Homo sapiens: one gene and its partners. The protein of the gene in region 3 interacts with the protein of the main gene of each other region in a pairwise test. Each region holds a gene or a part of one and is shown on either strand. Other genes may lie near its edges.

Region 1 (4,747 bases), on a different chromosome or scaffold from region 3:
TAGAAAATCCCCTTCCCTTTCCAGGTCTTTTTCCTGATCCAGGGGAGAACTAACTAAGAGTCTGATACCTTTCTAAATCTGATAATAAACACTGGCCAGCCTTGGTGGCTCACACGTGTAATCCTAGCACTTTGGGAGGCAGAGATGGGAGGATCACTTGAGCCCAGGAGTTCAATACCAGCCTGGGCAACATGACAAAACACCATCTCTACAAAAAATACAAAAATAAGCCAGGCATAGTGGAATGAACCAGTAGTCTCAGCTACTTAGGAGGCTGAGGTGGGAGGATAACTTGAGCCTGGGAGGTCAAGGCTGCAGTAAGCCGTGATCCAGCTACTGCACTCCAGACTGGGTGACAGAGGGAGACCCTGTCTCAAAACAAAAAAAAAAATAAAGAAACATTTACAATCTATGCTCTCTGGAGCCTGCTACCTGTAGCCTTCTCTGCATAATAAAAACCTTGATTTCCACAATTCCTTGTGTGTGTGTGTGTGTGTGTGTGTGTGTGTGTGTGCGTGCATATCTTAGTAACAATTCCTTAACTTAACCCAGACATTCCCTTCTGTGGGTTCCAGGTCTTTAAACTCTTTCAACCAATTGTCAATCAGGACATCTTTGAATCCACCTACATCCTGGAACTTGCCACCCCCACCCCCACTTTCGGGACCAAGCCAATGTATATTTTACATGTATTGATTGATGTCTTACGTCTCCCTAAAATGTATAAAATCAAGTGGTGTCCCGACTATTTTGGACACACATTCTTAGGACCTTCTAAGGCTGTGTCACGGGCATGTCCTTAACATTGGCAAAATAAACTCCTAAATTGATTGAGACCTGTCTCAGATACTTTTTGGTTTGCAATTTATTTATTTGAGACAGGGTCTTGCTAGGTCGCCCAGGCTGGGGTACAGTGGCAGAATCATGGCTTATTGCAGCCTCAACCTCCTGGGCTCAAGGGATCCTCCCACCTCAGCCTCCTGAGTAGCTGTGACTACAGGCACCCACCACTAGGCTGGGTAATTTTTTTCTTCTGTAGATACGGAGTCTCCCTGCGTTGCCCAGGCTGATCTAGAACTCTTGGGCTCAAGCCTCCCGCACTCCTGAGCTCAAGCCGCGGCCTCCCGAAGTGCTGGGATTACAGATGTGAGCCACTGCGCCTGGCCAGGTACTATATTTTAAACAAAAAGGATCTAGATAATGACAAGGACAGCACAAATTCCTATAATGAATGCAAAAGTGTCTTGATATCACAATGTCTAGCACAGAGTTATTGGAGGCTATCCTGCCTAGCGCGTTACAATTTACAAAGCTGCCTCTCTGAAGCTGGATTTAGGATCTGCCTTAAACTCCGCGGCGGGGCCCTTGACAGCAGTGGGGACTGGAGCAAGATCAGAGCCGCTCGCGTTGATGGTCACTGTTGCTTCGGGCGCAGGTTTGGTTTTCTTTGGGGTTGCCATTTCAACTAGACGGCCTCTGGGTAGGCCAGATCTGGATCCTCTGTCTTTATCTGCGTTGCAGAGGTGGGACCACCCCTCTTTCACATAGTCAGCCCGGGTTCGCAAACACTCGGCCCCGCACAAAGATGGCGTGGAGCCGGGCTGGGCCAATGCGGAGTGGCGTTGCTCCCGGTTGCCTAGGTAACAGCCAATGGGCAGCGGGAATTGTACCCAGTGCGGTCGCCCAGGATGGCGGCGTCAAGTGGGGCAATCGCTGGTGGAGGTGGCGGAGAGCAAGGTGGCAGCCGGGAGCCCATCAGAGGAAAAGTCCGAGGCGCTGGAACCCTGCGTCCAGGCGTGACGGTCATCCCGAAAGGCCGGCCCCAGGTTGGCTGGAGGCGCAGGAGGGAGGGGGCCGGGAAAGAGTGTGATCGGTCAGGTGGGCACTGAGGAACGGAGCACGAGATGACCCGGCTCGGGGGCGCGGCTCCACCTCGGATACGCTGACCTGAGGGCGGTTGCCTGTGGGGGACCCAAACCTGAACCCTTTAGTCTCCACCGCGGGGGTCGAGGCCCGGGAGAGCTGACTGGACTGGGGTTAGCGAGCAGAGGGTGGAGGGTTGCATCAGGGGAATTGGCAGACCTGTGTGAGCGTTAGACCCTGCCGGGCGGGAGAGCGGGCCCGGATAGCAGGAAGGAACGCGCCTGGAAGGTGAAAATGGGGTGCGAGAAGGTGTTGCCTTGTTGTGGTCTAGGGCTTTGTTTTCCCTGAGCCCGCCTTTATCTCACTGGTGGAGAGAACTCCCACATATGGAAGCCTGGGGAATGGGATGCTTCATTTAGTTGATGGGTGGTATCCCTGCATTCTAGCATCTCTGAACTGCTTAGGTACCAGCAGGAATAACTGCTATATCGGAGTCCAGCCCTGGCATTCCCTTTCCCGTGAAATAGGATAGTATTCTGGCAGTATTACTCCCTAGTCCCAATCACCCCCAGGTCATCATCGCCTTTAAATAAAAAAAAAAAAAAATCTTTTTGGCGCCAGTATTTTCTTCCCACTTTCTTCAATCTAACCATCCCACAGTCTTCCCTAAACGAACCCTTCATATAGCAACGATACATTTCTTTACTTTTCACATGAGGAAAGAGGAGGTTAGACTTATAATGAAAAACAGTTATTTCGAGCTCCTTTTAAAACACTTAAAAAAAAATATTTAGGCCGGGCGCGGTGGCTCACGCCTGTAATCCCAACACTTTGGGAGGCCGAGGCGGGTGGATCACGAAGTCAGGAGTTCAAAACTAGCTTGGCCAAGATGGTGAAACCTCGTCTCTACTAAAAATACAAAAATTAGCCAAGCATGGTGGCACGTGCCTGTAATCCCAACTACCCAGGAGGCTGAGGCAGGAGAATTGCTTGAACCTGGGAGGCGGCGGTTGCAGTGAGCCAAGATCCTGCCACTGCACTCCAGCATGGGGGACAGAGCAAGACTCCGTCTCAAAAAAAAAAAAAAAAAAAAAAAAGGGGAGTATTATTTGACTTTTTGTTCTAGGTTCCTAACAAGGCTAATCTTTGTTCATCAAAGCCTTCATTTTCTTCTCTTTAGGATTCTAAAAGCTTATGAACTGCTTTCTTTATTACTGAAATAATTTGACAAGACTATTGTACCCTGGGAAGGGTGGTTCTGGGGGGACATGTGGGTAGTTAGGGTGGCTGCCTCCACCCAGTATTCTCTAACTGGATCTCCCCCACCGCCCCAACCTTTTGTTTTGTTTTGCTTTTCTTTTCTTTTTTTTGAGACAAGGTCTGGCTCTGTTGCCCAGGCTGGAGTACAGGTGTGGTGCAGTCACTGCTCACCCCGGCAGCCTCAAATTGTGGGCTCAAGCAATCCTCCTACCTCAGCCTCCTGAGTAGCTGGGACTACAGGCATGCACCACCACACCCAGCAAATTTTTGTATTGTTTTGTAGAGATGAGGTCTCACTACGTTTCCCAGCTTGGTATTGAACTCCTGGGCTCAAGCGATCCTCTTGCTTCAGCCTCCCAACGTGCTGGGATTACAGGAGTGAGCCATCATGCCTGGCCCTTTTTCCTCTTTATGTCAGTTTTTTTTTTTTTAATCCTCTTAAATTGGACACAGTTTACTGTGAATACAAAAATGTTGTTTAATACGTTGATTTCTTAAAATTAGAAAACGATAAAAAGAACGGAAACAAAAATTCTCGTTATTGCCTCAGAGTTCTGTTTGGAAATAAGAAAATAATAATAATTAAAAAGAAATGTCTGGGACAAAAGAAAATGAAGATACCAGGAATATGGTATATAGTGCAGACTAATAGTGTGTTGGTTTACAGGGACAGAATAGTAATTTTCTTTTATGTAAATGTTTGGACTGATCCTTTGCAACCCATCTATCAGGAGTGCAGAAAGGGTGAGTGTCTGTTTAGAAGTGTGAATCATCTTGGTTTGTGACTGGATTCCATGGGTGTATCTGTAGCCTAAACTCCTGAGCCATATATTCTCTTTAAAAATATGATTTGGATAACTGATAGAAATACTGATTTGCATCCCTTATTAAAGTATTGGGCCAGACATGGTGGCTCCCACCTGTAATCCTAGCACTTTGGAAGGCTGAAGCAGGCAGATCACTTGATCCCAGGAGTTCAAGACCAGCATGGGCAACGTGGTAAAACCCTGTCTCTACCAAAAAATGCAAAAATTAGCTGGGTGTCGTGGCATGCTCCTGTAGTCCCAGCTACTCAGGAGGCTAAGGTGGGAGGATGGCTTGGGCCCAGGAGGCAGAGGTTGCAGTGGCTGAGATGACGCCACTGCACTCCAGCTTGGATGACAGAGCCAGACTGCCTCAAAAAAAAAAAAGTATTGGGCTTTCAGTCTTCATCGGCACTGACTATACTTTGTTAAACTAGGTTTGTCTCAATGACCATGGTTACTGGTGAAATTCCTTTTTAGGTCAGTAGCTGTAAAGCTATTCATTAGCATGGTTAATTATAAAAGTCATAAAATCCAGACACTGTCCCAAATAGTGACAATATCAACTATTTGGGCACATGTGACAGTTTCTAGCCAAATGTATTCAACCATGGCCTGAGACTCATGGATTCTACACACATTCCCTTTCATTAGCACTTCTGACTGTGGTCTTGGCAATGGACATCATTTTGGCAAGCATTTGCTGAAGGGAATTTGCTATATGTGCCTAAGTCAAAATGGAATGGAAGTTTGTAGTATGTACTGTTGAAAACCAATGGGAGAGGATGGTGGGAGGGTTAGGTTGAAACATGGTATTCCAG
Region 2 (4,771 bases), on a different chromosome or scaffold from region 3:
TCCAGGAGCCACATGAACGCGAAGCAGGGCAGGAAGCCGATGGGCCCCCACAGCACGAGCAGCGCGATGTCCCAGCTGGAGAAGCCGTAGGCCTGGCGCGCCGAGTTCTGGATGGGACCCCAGGTGTTCCAGACCAGGCCCTGAACGAACGCCAGCAGCGAGAAGAGCAGCAGCACCAGCCAGCGGCGCCCGTATACCCGCCCGGGACCCGGGACCGCCGCGGGCAGCGCCGCCGCCGCCGCCTCCCGGCTTCTCCAGGAGGCCCCCAGCCCAGGCCCGAGCCCGGGCCCCAGCAGCGGCTGCCTCTCCTCTTCGCTGCTCCAGCGAGAGCCCATGGCGACGCGTCGCCCGCGAAGCCACTGCCGGGCGCAGTCCGGGTCACCGCCGACTAGCCCAGCGCAGAATAGTCCTGAGCAGCAGGAGGCGGAGGCTGCTGTGGTCGCCCTCGGCCTCCGGACCGCGCCTGGTGCGCCTGCGCGGCCCGAGCCGGGCCGGCGGGGAGGCGGGGAGGCGGGGCAGGCGGCAAGGAGGCTGGGGTCCGCCCTCCCCTCCGCGGGTGGCGAGGAAACACCGGCGAGAGGAAAGGAGCCAGGTCCCAGACGGAGGGCAGGTAGCGCTGAAAAGGCAGGGACCAGCGCGGCTGAGTCGGGGAGAGGGAAACTCCCAGAGAGGCTGTATTCGAGGAGGTTGGGCAAGGAACCCTGGGGTGTTTGGAGGAAGTGTCCAAGTTAAATCTTGTGCCTAATAAACAACTCAGTGACCTGTTAAGTGACGTCAGTTAACCTGATGCTTGCTTCTATTTTGGGCTTATTCTCATTTTTGTTGAGTTAGTAACTTCAGAAATTATAGGCGAAGGATAAAGTTTAAGCGTAGTTGGTCCCAGGGGATTATCTCATAAAAATCATTTCTTACGTGCAATAAGTACTACCTATTTTTGTTACTTTTTTGTCTTACATATCCAAAGAGGAGATTCCAAACTAGCCAATTTCATTCATATATATGTAAACTTTACCCATTTCGCCTGCCAATAGGCGAGCAATAAAGGTATGTCCAGTAAAGTTGGAAGATTTTTGCCCCAAAGATCCATCTCCAGTGATTATGATTTGACCACAGGGTAAACGAGAAGAAAGGTGGTTGTTGATCTCTTCACACAGCTGTTTGTTTATTTTGGTATACAAATTCAGAAGCCTGACAGCTGTGGATTAGTGTCCTTGAAAACCTAAAGTCAAGCAATTTGGCTTGTCTGGATCGGGAAATGAGTCACAGGGAACGCAATCACAGGATTCTTTGCCCGAGGTTCGTATTTCCCGGCAGCCACTAAAATCAGAAGGAGTCAGGTTACCACCAGAAGGGCAAGAGAGGTGTAAGAGAAGCGTGAGCTAGCCTCGCATTCCAGGCTGCCAAGAGCGGCTCGCGAAAGCTCACGGCAGAGACCCATCCCACCGCCGGAGCCCCACTAAGCGGCAAACCTTCCCCTAAAACTCCAATCCTTTAGGGTGGAGAAAAGCCGAGGTGGAAAGGAAGGATCTGACTAGAAAAGGAGAAACAGAAACGAAGCTAAGACTACAATAAAGAACGCTAAGGTCCGGGTTAGGTAAAAAGCGCCACAACTCAGACCACGTGTTTGTATTTCCACACCCGGGGTATCAAAACAAAGCTGCGTGGTCCCGCCCAGCATCCGTCACGTGACCTCCACGTGAGAGCCGGCGTTTCCGTAGGAGCCGGGCGGGAGTCGCCGGGGCTCCTTCCTGTGGTGCAGCTTCGGGTCTCGGAGTTTGGCCCCTACTCTGACCCCACCCCAGCTCCGCTCCGCCTTGGGTTCCGGCAGAACCCGCCTTGCGGTAGCCATGGCAGCAGGCTCCGAGGCGACCACTCCTGTGATCGTTGCGGCTGGGGCTGGAGGGGAGGAAGGTAGGTGCCAGGCTGAGGTCCGACCCTGAGTACAAACCCAATGCCAGTTGACTCTCGTGGCACCCCTCGTGGGGCCGTTTGCCTTAGCCCCAACCCAGGTCTCTCTGGCCTTGCATTAGACTATGAAGAAAAATCTATATTTTCTAGTGAGCGTGGCATTTCTCGAATTGTGGCATCCAGATTTTTGATCGTCGTAGGGTAGCCTACGAGTGCTGTTTCACGCATGGGGTGTTATTTTTGTTTTGTTTTGTTTTATATTTGCCCATCATTAGCTAAATAGAGGTGTTTTGAACGTTTAGAGGGGATTAAAATTAAATTTGTGAAATTGAAGGCAACCTTTGAGATTAATGGAAGTTATCTGAGACTTTTGTGAACAGGGATTATGCGCTTTTATTCTATTTCAGTGAACCCTGGTTTAGCAAGTGGGGATGAGGTTTGGAGGCCCATGAGCCTGAGATCCCTGTTATTATTTATTGAATGATTGCACCGTGCAGGGCTGTGTTCTGAATACTGTCGCAGGATCCAGAGACTTTTGAATATTTATAACAATACCTTTTCCAAAGGAGCCTAGAAAGGAAAAAGAATGACTTACTATGTGGTCACCTGAACTATTCTACCAGTAGTACACTCTGTGAGGGTTGTTAGGAGGAGGGATCTCAGTGGGGAGAACATAAATGCTTCAAGGAGCGAATAGTTTGAGGTCGGCCTTTCTTTTTCTTTTCTCTCTTTTTTTTTTTTTCTTTTTTTGAGACGGAGTCTCGCTCTGTCACCAGGCTGGAGTGCAGTGGCGCGATTTTGGCTCACTGCAACCTCCACCTCCCAGGTTCAAGCAATTCTTCTGCCTCAGCGTCCCAAGCAGCTGGGACTACAAGCGTGCCACCACGCCCAGCTAATTTTTGTATTTTTAGTAGAGACGGGGTTTCACCATGTTGGCCAGGATGGTCTCGCTCTCTTGACCTTGTGATCCGCTGAGGTGGGCCTTTCTGATTGGATGAGATGGTGACAAACTCAGGGAGTGGTGCTGGGGTTCAGGAAGTCAGGGAGCAGAAAAGGATGGATGTATTTAGGGGTCAAACAGTTTGCTGAAGGGGGAGATGCCCATTCCAAGCAGAAGAAACAAATTATAGCCTCCTACTATCTGACCACTTTCTACCAGGGAGACAATTCTTGACCTTCATCTATACCTCCATTGCATTGATCTTTCCATTTTCTATCCACTGCACCCCCTTATCCAGAATGTATGTCGTTCCTTTGAAAAATTCTCTTGTCCCTTCCTGCACTTTTTTCTGACAAAACTCTTACTCTGGATGAAGTCAACCTTTTGCCCTCTTTGTACCTGCACCCGTGGGCCTGAACTTTGCTGGAAAAAGTCCTGCACAAACTGATGACCGTATAAAGTGAAAATGGCCAAACTCTTGAATATTCAGTCAGTATGGGCTTGAGATCCCTCTGATCCTCTGTTTCTCTAGTGAGCCTGCTAACGTTCTCCAATGACAAATTCCCAAACTCTATAACCTCTCTCTGCCTCTTTCTTAATTTCAGGTAATGACTTTGCAAGTCAGGTCAATTCTGCATCTAATCTGTCTACTTTTTTCCTTTCACTATCAGACCGTACTTCAAATCATCCACATTTTCTCACCTCAACTACTACTGTATCTTCCTGACTGACTTGTGTCTCTGTTTTCTATTCTGTGCCCCTCTAATCCCTTCTCCACTCTGCAGCAAAAAGTGACTCTTCCTTATGTAAAATTCTTCAGCGAATTACATTGCCCTTAGAAGTTAGAATAAAACCCAGATTCTTAACCGTGGCCTGTAATAATCCTTGGTCTGGGCTCTGCTGATGTCTTTAGCAGGATCTCTTGTCACTCACCTCCCCTTTGGCTTTTCACATAGCTGGCTTAATCTTTAGCTTTTAAAGTATGTCACCACCTGAGACCTTACCAGATCAAACTATTTAAAACAGTCACTGTGATTTCTCTTGCACCCCCCAACCCTAGATGTTCTGGAATACAGCATCCTGCTTCTGTCATTTTACTTACTACAATCTGTAATTATTTATTATTTGTTTTTTCCATTAGATCATAAGTACCTTGAGGGCAGGACCTATGTCTGTTTCATTCTCTACCATGTGCCCAGCTGCTAGTACAATGCCAGGCACATAGTTGGCACATGCCACATGTTTGTTGAGTGGATGAATAAGGGCACTCCATGCCAAGTCCAGAGGCAAAAGGAGAAAGCATGGCATGGTCCAAGAACTGAAAGAAGTTGGTGTCAGGAGTGGTAAGAAAAGAGGTATCCTGAAGGTTACCTTAGGCCTAGTTAAGGAATCTAGACATTAAGACAGTAGGAAGCCTTAAAGAGCTTTAGGTGAGGGAAATAACATGATTAGATTTGGTTGTAGGAAGATCACTTTGGCTGAAGGGTAGAAGACCGATTGGAGGGAGAAAGACTGGAGGACAAGGTACTTAATCCCTTTGAGCCTCAGTTTCCTCCTCTGTAAAATGCATGATTATTGTGAAGATTAGAGTTAATATGTGTAGATTATCTAGCATAGTATCTGGCAGGAATTGGATATTCAAGAATCGTGACCATTTTTATTATTAATAGAAAGTGCCAGCCTTAGTAACTGATGTTGAAACTGAAAGAAAAGAAATTAGAGATGTTATGTAAGAGAATGAGAAAAATAAATACATTAAATAAAGTCAAGTGAAAGGGTCAGTATGTTCAGTACAATGATGAATACAATGGGAGTCATAGAAAAGTTCATTTTTAAAATTTTTGGTTTATTTTTTATTTTTGTAGATACAGGGTCTCACAATGTTCCGTAGGCTGGTCTCGAACTCCTGGCCTCAAGTGATGC
Region 3 (4,189 bases):
CAACTGTTTTATTATTATCCTAAAAAGGCCATCTAGAAGAGGAAAAGAACTCGCAAAAGGTCAAAACGTCCTTGCTTAAGAGCGAGTGTGTGTTTAGTCAAGGAGCCCAGGGTCCTAGGCTGTTTTGTTTACAAAACAGTCATTCCTCAGCTGGGGAACAGTCTTCCCTTCCCACCCAGACCCACTGTCCCTCTCAACTGCCCTGTGCCCTCAGCATTTTGTGTAAGCCGCTATATAACACATACCACATTTTATTGCTTTAAACAAATGTACATGGTGCTCTTCCAGTGGCTGAACTCCTAAAGGAATCCCTCTACCCCGAACTTGGAGCAAATGAATCAAGATGTTCCCCCAAAGTCCTAGATGTACAGCGTCTTCAGGCTCCCTGCTTTCTCAAGGCAGATCTGAGTTCGCTCTTGGAGCCTAGCAGGCTAAATTTCAAAATCTTGAACCAATGTGGGCTCTCAAGGTTTGCATGGGATCCATTTGCTTTGGGTCCTGGTCTGCTTGTGCTTCACACTCAGGGGCTCTGGGCAGGGTCTTCCACAAGAGGCAGTCCAGACCACTGCAACATGGGAAGCTCCTAAAATGCTCAGTTGTGGGATCCTGGGGAGCTGCAAGTTGATTATAACGAGCTTCCCCAAGCGATTCTGATGCCCAATAATGTCTGAGGACTCCAAGGGAGTCAGAGAGACAAAAATGAAGCCCTTGCTTTAGGCTGGGCTCTTGATTTCTTCTGGATTAGGAAGGGCTCAAGAGCCCTCTAGAAGTGGGGGTCTAGTACTGGCATTTAACTGTCTGTGGGGAATATCTGGAAACAAAGACTGAAAAACCAATAAATAAAAACACCACATGACCTTTAATTAGAGATTCCTTTGGGTTAGCAAATGCCTTTAAAGAAAAAATGCAAGAGCCTTTGGACAAGGTTAAACATACTTTATAGCAAATCCCATTCATTTAATAACGCGAGTCCTCCCTTTCTAATAATTAATTGAGGATGGCACTGTGATAATTAGGGGTGGTAGTTGCCATTGATTTTAAAAGGTGGGGAGAAGAATTGTCTGTTTGATTTTATATTAGTTGTAAAGTTCAACAGGAAGAGGGGCGAGTATGGTAGATGAATGGATGGGAGGTTGAGCGTCTGTAAGTCTAATCAGAAGTGGGACACGACAGGCCCTAAGGGGCACAATAGATTTGATGAGGGGCAGGGGATGTGTTATTGATGTAGGTGTCAGGGCAGGTGGATGGGAGCACACTTTTAGAATGTGACTGACTCAATGGGGGTTTTAGCCCAGTGCTTCGTTCCCTGGCCCGGCTGAAGCCCACTATGACCCTGGAGGAGGGACTGCCATTGGCTGTGCAGGAGTGGGAGCACACCAGCAACTTTGACCGGATGATCTTTTATGAGATGGCAGAAAGGTGAGTTCGATGAACCTTCATTCTCCTGAGGGAGGCTGTGTGGCTGAGAGCAGTAAGGGCCGCAGAGAGACTTGTGTGGGGGTGATTATCAAAAGCCATGTTAGGATGGGGCGCAGCGGCTCACGCCTGTAATCCCACCACTTTGGGAGGCCAAGGCCGGTGGATCACCTGAGGTCAGGAGTTCGAGAACAGCCTGGCCAACATGGCGAAACCCTGTCTCTACTAAAAAAAAAAAAAATACAAAAATTAGCCGGGCATGGTGGCATGTGCCTGTAGTCCCAGCTACTCAGGAGGCTGAGGCAGGAGAATCGTTTGAACCTGGGAGGTGGAGGTTGCTGTGAGCCAAGATCATGCCTCTGCACTCCAGCATGGGTGACAGAGCAAGACTCCATCTCAAAAAAAAAAAAAAAAAAAAAAAAAAAAAAAAAAAAAGGGATGTTAGGCTGGGTGTGTGCTTGTAGTCCCAGCTACTCTAGAGGCTAAGGTGGGAGGATGGTTTGGGTTCAGTAGTTCAAGACCAGCCTGGACAACATAGCAAGACCTCATCACAAAAAAAAAAAAAAGAAAAGAAAAGAAAAAAAGGGACGGGAGGAGGGGTGTAGACTAGGATGGCAGTTTCCTGGATCCTTGCTTCTTCTTCCACCACCTTGACTCTTGGGTTTTTCTATCCTGTTTCCTCTTGAAAGCTCCCCCCTCACCAGATCCTGAATCTGTATAGGAGCCTTGATATTGTAGGTCTTAGGATGGGATTGGAGATTGGACCCCGATAGATATAGAAATTTCATGCTGAAGGGACCTAGCAATGAGGAGGTGTGCTCTACCAGGCAGGTTCTTTTCTCTTCTCATTGACTTGGTAGCAAGTGGCTATTGATACAGAACTTCAGGACCACTCCTCCATTGGAAATAGTGGCACAGAAAATCCCTTTCCGCCTTTATCCCAGGGAGGGGGCTGGTTCTGGAAGAGCCGGGGAAAGCCAGTGTCCTGGATGCCCAAAGTTGTCTCCTGGCTCTTCTTCTATTTCTCTATAATATCTTTGATTAAAAAAAAAAAAAAAAGGCTAGGCGTGGTGGCTCCGCCTGTAATCCCAGCACTTTGGGAGGCCGAGGCAGGCAGATCACCTGAGGTCGGGAGTTCGAGACCAGCCTGACTAACATGGAGAAACCCCCATCTCTACTAAAAATACAAAATTAGCCAGGCATGGTGGCGCATGCCTGTAATCCCAGCTACTCAGGAGGCTGAGGCAGGAGAATCGCTTGAACCCAGGAGGCAGAGGTTGCGGTGAGCCGAGATTGTGCCATTGCACTCCAGCCTCGGCAACAAGAGCGAAACTCTGTCTCAAAAAAAGAAAGAAAGAAAGAAAAAACTCAGAAAAATGAACAGATTCTTCCAAGCTTAGCTTCCACTTACTCCCTCCCAAAACCTTTTGGACCCATGCTTCCTAGACTTACCTTTCCAAGAATCCCATCCCAGTCTCAGGACTCTGGGATCTCACATTGTTTCCTGGTAGGAACTGCCTTGAATTCTTTGTGGTTGTAGGCAGGGGCAAATGAGGTCTTGAGGAGGATCCCACTGTGAGATCCCACCAGGCTGTTGCATAGGCCTGATTAAGTTAAACAAGCCTATATTGAGCACTGCTGTGTACAATCCATGAAGCTGGGTGAGATAGGTACGGAAAACAAGTGAGGCCGGGCACATTGGCTCACACCTGTAATCCCAGCATTTTGGGAGGGTGAGGCGGGCGGATCATGAAGTCAGGAGATTGAGACCATTCTGGCTAACACGGTGAAACCCCGTCTCTACTAAAAATACAAAAAAAAAAAAAAAAAGCCAGGCGTGGTGGCACGCACCTGTAGTCCCAGCTACTCAGGAGACTGAGGCAGGAGAATCACTTGAACCCGGGAGGCAGAGGTTGCAGTGAGCCGAGATTGGGCCACTGCACTTCATCCTGGGCGACAGAGTGAGACTCTGTCTCAAAAACAAAAACAAGTACTGAAAGCCCTCACTGTGTCCAAGAGAAGTTTACAAGCTCTAGATCATTCTTAACTTTTTTTTTTTTTTTTTTTTTTTTTTGAGACAAAGTCTCACACTGTTGCCTGGGCTGGAGTGCAATGGCACGATCTCGGCTCACTGCAACCTCTGCCTCCTGGGTTCAAGTGATTCTCCTGCCTAAGCCTCCCGAGTAGCTGGGATTACAGGCACCCACCACCACATCAGGCTAATTTTGTGCATTTTTAGTAGAGACGGGGTTTCACTATGTTGGCCAGGCTGGTCTCGAACTCCTGACCTCATGATCCGCCCGCCTCAGCCTCCCAAAGTGCTGGGGTTACAGGCGTGAGCCACTGCGCCTGGCCTCATTCTTTACTTTTTAAAAATTTTCTTGAGGCAGGATCTCACTCTGTTGCCCAGGCTGGAGTGCAGTGGCACTGTCATGGCTCACTGCAGCCTTCACCTCTTGAGCTCAAGCGATCCTCCCACCTCAGCCCCACAATAGCTGTGACTAGACGCGCGTCATCACTCTTGGCTAATTTTTTTGGTATCTTTTGTAGAGATGGGTTTTTGCCGTGTTACCCAGGTTGGTCTCAAACTCTTGGGCTCAAGCAATCTGCCCACCTCAGCCTCCCAAAGTGTTGGGTTTATAGGCATGAGCCACCCCACCTGGCCATTCATTTTCTTAAGCTTCCTAAGTTATGACTATAGGGGAAGGAACTATGTGCTGAGCTCCTGAAGTTTCCCTGGAAATACGATTAAGCCACCTGTGACCACCCTCCT
Region 4 (4,821 bases), on a different chromosome or scaffold from region 3:
GTGCTGTTTCTGGGCCAGCCGTGGGAGACCCAGCAGTGAATGAAATAGCCACGAGCCGTGGGCTAGATCGCCATCTGGTGGGCAGGACCGACAATCGACAAATAAAAGTGCCGGTTAATTACAAAAAAAAAAAAAAAAAAAAAAAAAAATCGTCCTGATGCGGTGACTCACCTGTAGCCCCAGCTACTCAGGAGGCTGAAGTGGGGGGATCATTTGAGGCCACGAGTTGGAGGCTACATTTAGCTGTGATCCCATCACTGCACCCCAGCCTGGGTGACAGAGCAAGACCCCATCTCAATAATAATAATAATAATAAATAAACCTAGAAAGAAGCAGATGTAGCCAGGCGCGGTGGCTCATGCCTATAATCCCAGCACTTTGGGAGGCTGAAGCGGGCAGATCACCTGAGGTCAGATGTTCAAAAACAGCCTGGCCAACATAGTGAAACCCCATCTCCACTAAAAAAAAATACAAAAAATTAGCCAGGTGTGGTGGTGCACACCTGTAATCCCAGCTACTCAGGAAGCTGAGGCAGGAGAATCACTTGAACCTGGGAGGCAGAGGTTGCAGTGAGCCAAGATCATGCCACTGCACTCCAGCCTAGGTGACAGGAGACTCAATTTCAAAAAAAGATGTGATCAAGAGTGAGTTGGGTTGGAGGCAGGGACTGCTCTGGATTAAATGGCCAAGAAAGGCCATGCTGAGGTGTAAACTGAGCCCTGAAGGAAAAGTATTCCAGGCAAAGTGCAAAACTCTGAGGCAAAAACCTCTTTGGAATGTATGAGGGAGGTTCAGGGAAGCAAGGAGGAGAGGAAAGAATCCAAGTCCCGAGGTACAGGAGAGGACAAGAAGTAGATCTTGCAGAGCTGCTAGTAAGCGGCATCCCACCTAACATTTTGAGGGCCAGAAGTAGCCACAGAGCCCCTCTCACGCAAGGGAGTAATGTCTATATGCTTTTTTTTTTTTTTTGAGACGGTCTCCCTTTGTTGTCCAGGCTGGAGTGCGGTGGTGCAATCTTGCCTCACTGCAAACTCCACCTCCTGTGCTCAAGCGATTCTCCTGCCTCAGTCTCCCATGTAGCTGGGACTACAGGTGTGTGCTACCACACCTGTCTAATTTTTGTACTTTTAGTAGAGACAGGGTTTCACCATGTTGCCCAGGCTGGTCTCAAACTCCTGACCTCAAGTGATCCGCCTGCCTCGGCCTCCCAAAGTGCTGAGATTACAGGTGTCAGCCACCGCGCCCGGCCTGATATACACTTTTAAGGCTCCGGGCTGTCCATGAGGATCAAGCGTGGAAGTAGGTCTACAGAAAAGGCTGCCGCAGTTCACCCATGACAGGTGATGACAGTCTGGACATAGGGAGGATGGAGAGAAGTCGTGCGCCCTGGCAGTATTTCAGGAGCCAACTAGTGGAGCCGGGACGCGAGAAATAGAGGAACCAAGAAGCCATAAGGAGGAGGAAGAGCAGCGGGTAGGTCAAGATGCCACAGCCGCAGGAGGGGCTGTTGGGGTCGGGGTTACCCCCATCCCTGTGCAGGCGGACTTGGCGTCTGAGGACAGAGTCCAGACCACAAGGATCTGGAGCTCAGGAGAGACTCGTGGGCCACAGCCCGAGAAAGCGCTGGGAATCCAAATACTATGGCGATTGGCAGTCGCGTAGGCGAGGCGGGCTAGAGACCCGCCCGGATTTAGGCGCGAGCCACCTCCAGGGGCGGGGCCCAGGCCGCACTGCGCAGGCGCGGCTAACCCGTTTCCATGGCTGCGAGAACTGACGCTCCCCAACCGTCCCGCAACTGTCCTGTCCCAGACTTTGGCACCGTCGGGGTCCGTCGTCCCCGAATGTGACAGCATCCCCACCCCGGCTGCTGCCCAGGATCCGCCGGACCCCGGCCTCGATATGGGAGACCTGGAACTGCTGCTGCCCGGGGAAGCTGAAGTGCTGGTGCGGGGTCTGCGCAGCTTCCCGCTACGCGAGATGGGCTCCGAAGGGTGAGGCACCCGGGTCAGGCGGAGTCCCGGAGTCATTGTCCTTGAGTCGGGGAGCTGGGGCCTGACTCGGGGGAGGGGCTGCCCAGTGTGGAGGGGCTCCCAAATGGGGGAGCAGAGCGTTCCGAGACAGGAGTATTACTGCTCCTGAGCCCCCTGTGTCCCCTCAGGATCAGGTTAGGCTTCAGTAGGATCCAGCCCCCATCCCCACTCCTAATGCACACACGTGGACGCACATGCACTTACCCTCTGAGGCAGGTGGAACCAGCAGCATGAGAACCTGGAGAAGCTGAACATGCAAGCCATCCTCGATGCCACAGTCAGCCAGGGCGAGCCCATTCAGGAGCTGCTGGTCACCCATGGGAAGGTACCCCGAGGTCACAGGCAGGGTTCCTGCCTTCCCCCATACCTCACCTACTCTACCCCTCCGGAGTCCCCTGTGTGCCCTTCCCCTCTGGCCTGGTACACCTGTTCTCCCTGAAGGACAAAGAGGAATGTGTTACATGTTTCATTTTGTATCCCTATTGGACAGGACTCTGGCACACCAGGCTGGGTGCAGGGCATGAGTTGATTAGGGAGAAAGCTGTAGGTCCTAGAACAGCTTAGGCTTCAAGGGGAAGGCCCAAATGCTAAAGGCATCTGTGAATTGACTGTAAGGCTGGTGGTGGGGAAGGGGTGGGGAGGGGTTGGGGAGGGCGGGAGGGAGGGGAGATAACCTAACTGGAGGTGGAACTTCGGCATGGAAGGAAGCAGCCTTCCCAACATGAAAGGGGGAAGTTAGAAACCAGGGAGATGCCTGGCTGGAACATGGACCAGGGAGTGTCACCAGCAGATGACCTGAGATATCAATTGACCAAAAAAAAAAAAAAAAAAGCCGGGCATGGTAGCTCATGCCTGTTATCCCAGCATTTTGGGAGGCCAAGACGGGTGGATCATCTGAGGTCAGGAGTTCAAGGCCAGCCTGGCCAACATGGTGAAACCCCACCTCTACTAAAAATACAAAAATTTGCAGAGCATGGTGGTGCACACCTGTAATCCCAGCTACTCGGGAGGCTGAGGCAGGAGAATCGCTTGAACCTGGGAGGCAGAGGTTACAGAGAGCCAAGATCATGCCACTGCACTCCAGCCTGGGTGACAAGAGTGAAACTCCGTCTCAAAAAAAAAAAAAAAAAAAAGAAAGGTCCTTTGCAAAAGAAAGATGGAACTCATACTAGGGGATAGGATAGGAACAGGGCACTGTGAAGGGTCCTGAGTAGGAGTGAGGCCAAGGCACACAAGAGCTTTGGAGGACCACAGACAGGGACTAGAGGGAGGGCATGAGGAGAAGGGCTGGCTTGAAAGGGATGCCTGAATGGGCGGGCAGAGGATAAGGGTGCAGGTGCAGGCAGGGCAAGGCAGTCTGGGAACTGGGCAGGAGCCAGTCACATAAGCATGAGGGACATCCACAGAGGTGTTGGGAGCAGCTGGTAATGAAGGTCCAAGGTGCAAGAGAGAAGTCAGGAAGGATACTCATGGGTCTGGAATAGTTTAGGGGCCCAGCAGTGTTTGGGGATATCAGGGTTGAGCTGAGCCGGGGATGGGAGGGTTGCCAGGCAAAGGTAGGCCCATCTCATCCCTGTCCTTTACCCTACCCTTCAAAGGTCCCAACACTGGTGGAGGAGCTGATCGCAGTGGAGATGTGGAAGCAGAAGGTGTTCCCTGTGTTCTGCAGGGTGGAGGACTTCAAGCCCCAGAACACCTTCCCCATCTACATGGTGGTGAGCTGGGCCCCTGGTTCATACCTCTTCTCACTCCTTCAGAGGGCTCTGGACCGGGGAGGAGAGCTGGTAGCCCCTATCCCTTCCTCAGGCCCTGTCCTTCTCTTTATCTGACAGGTGCACCACGAGGCCTCCATCATCAACCTCTTGGAGACAGTGTTCTTCCACAAGGTGAGGGACTATCTCTGCCCATGGGCCACAGTTCCGGGTCAGGGCCTGGCAGGAAGGGAGATTGTGTCTGTGTGGGGAAGGCATCAGACACAGAAAGTTTCCCTCCTCCTTTTCCCAGGAGGTGTGTGAGTCAGCAGAAGACACTGTCTTGGACTTGGTAGACTATTGCCACCGCAAACTGACCCTGCTGGTGGCCCAGAGTGGCTGTGGTGGCCCCCCTGAGGGGGAGGGATCCCAGGACAGCAACCCCATGCAGGTGGGTTGAGGTTACCTAGGGTTGTGAAAGCCTAGGTCTGGGTTCCCCAAGGCCTGCGCAGGTGAGGGTGGCCCAGCGTGAACACTGTGTGACCTCCCAGGAGCTGCAGAAGCAGGCAGAGCTGATGGAATTTGAGATTGCACTGAAGGCCCTCTCAGTACTACGCTACATCACAGACTGTGTGGACAGGTGAGCAGTCCGACTGGGCCTGGGCCTACTGTGGAGGGCTGGAAGACCGGGCCTGTAGCCTGCCTCTACTCACCTCCTTCACAACGTCCCTGCCCCTAGCCTCTCTCTCAGCACCTTGAGCCGTATGCTTAGCACACACAACCTGCCCTGCCTCCTGGTGGAACTGCTGGAGCATAGTCCCTGGAGCCGGCGGGAAGGAGGTAGGGTCCTCCCCCACCAGCCTAAGCCCCAGGCTACTGCTTCAGGGTATCTTTTTGATAGAGGGGGGCAGCTTGCACACACGAAGACAAACCCTGTCCCCAAGCCCACTGAGGATACCAGGATGCCTCAGCCAAGGTTGGCCTAGACCTGAGCTCTGCAGCAGGCCAGGCCCATGTGTCCACTACTGAGGCTCACCCTGCTCTGGGGTCAGCAGCCCTATAGCCTGGGCAAGTCCTGCAGCCCAGGTTCTCCCATTCCC

What was found. Proteins that work in one complex are often made in the same cells at the same time.
Region 1: the proteins of NUTM1 (region 3) and MORN4 interact in binary tests that used the Homo sapiens proteins (3 or more experiments, as listed by UniProt).
Region 2: the proteins of NUTM1 (region 3) and HSPBAP1 interact in binary tests that used the Homo sapiens proteins (3 or more experiments, as listed by UniProt).
Region 4: the proteins of NUTM1 (region 3) and ZMYND10 interact in binary tests that used the Homo sapiens proteins (3 or more experiments, as listed by UniProt).

Annotation. Positions count from the first base shown.
Region 1 is NC_000010.11:97,630,426-97,635,172, reverse strand, and holds the start of MORN4 (MORN repeat-containing protein 4), read left to right. Parts: upstream 1-1,672; 5' UTR 1,673-1,826; intron 1,827-4,747. UniProt on the Homo sapiens protein: Plays a role in promoting axonal degeneration following neuronal injury by toxic insult or trauma.
Region 2 is NC_000003.12:122,790,757-122,795,527, reverse strand, and holds the start of HSPBAP1 (HSPB1-associated protein 1), read left to right. Parts: upstream 1-1,696; 5' UTR 1,697-1,847; coding exon 1,848-1,911; exon of another isoform or gene 1,912-4,771. Other genes in the region: SLC49A4 (solute carrier family 49 member 4), read right to left, coding at 1-335. UniProt on the Homo sapiens protein: May play a role in cellular stress response.
Region 3 is NC_000015.10:34,349,414-34,353,602, forward strand, and holds part of NUTM1 (NUT family member 1), read left to right. Parts: intron 1-1,290; coding exon 1,291-1,419; intron 1,420-4,189. UniProt on the Homo sapiens protein: Plays a role in the regulation of proliferation. Regulates TERT expression by modulating SP1 binding to TERT promoter binding sites.
Region 4 is NC_000003.12:50,342,658-50,347,478, reverse strand, and holds the start of ZMYND10 (zinc finger MYND domain-containing protein 10), read left to right. Parts: upstream 1-1,746; 5' UTR 1,747-1,899; coding exon 1,900-1,991; intron 1,992-2,246; coding exon 2,247-2,355; intron 2,356-3,628; coding exon 3,629-3,745; intron 3,746-3,862; coding exon 3,863-3,916; intron 3,917-4,034; coding exon 4,035-4,172; intron 4,173-4,272; coding exon 4,273-4,361; intron 4,362-4,460; coding exon 4,461-4,561; intron 4,562-4,821. UniProt on the Homo sapiens protein: Plays a role in axonemal structure organization and motility. Involved in axonemal pre-assembly of inner and outer dynein arms (IDA and ODA, respectively) for proper axoneme building for cilia motility.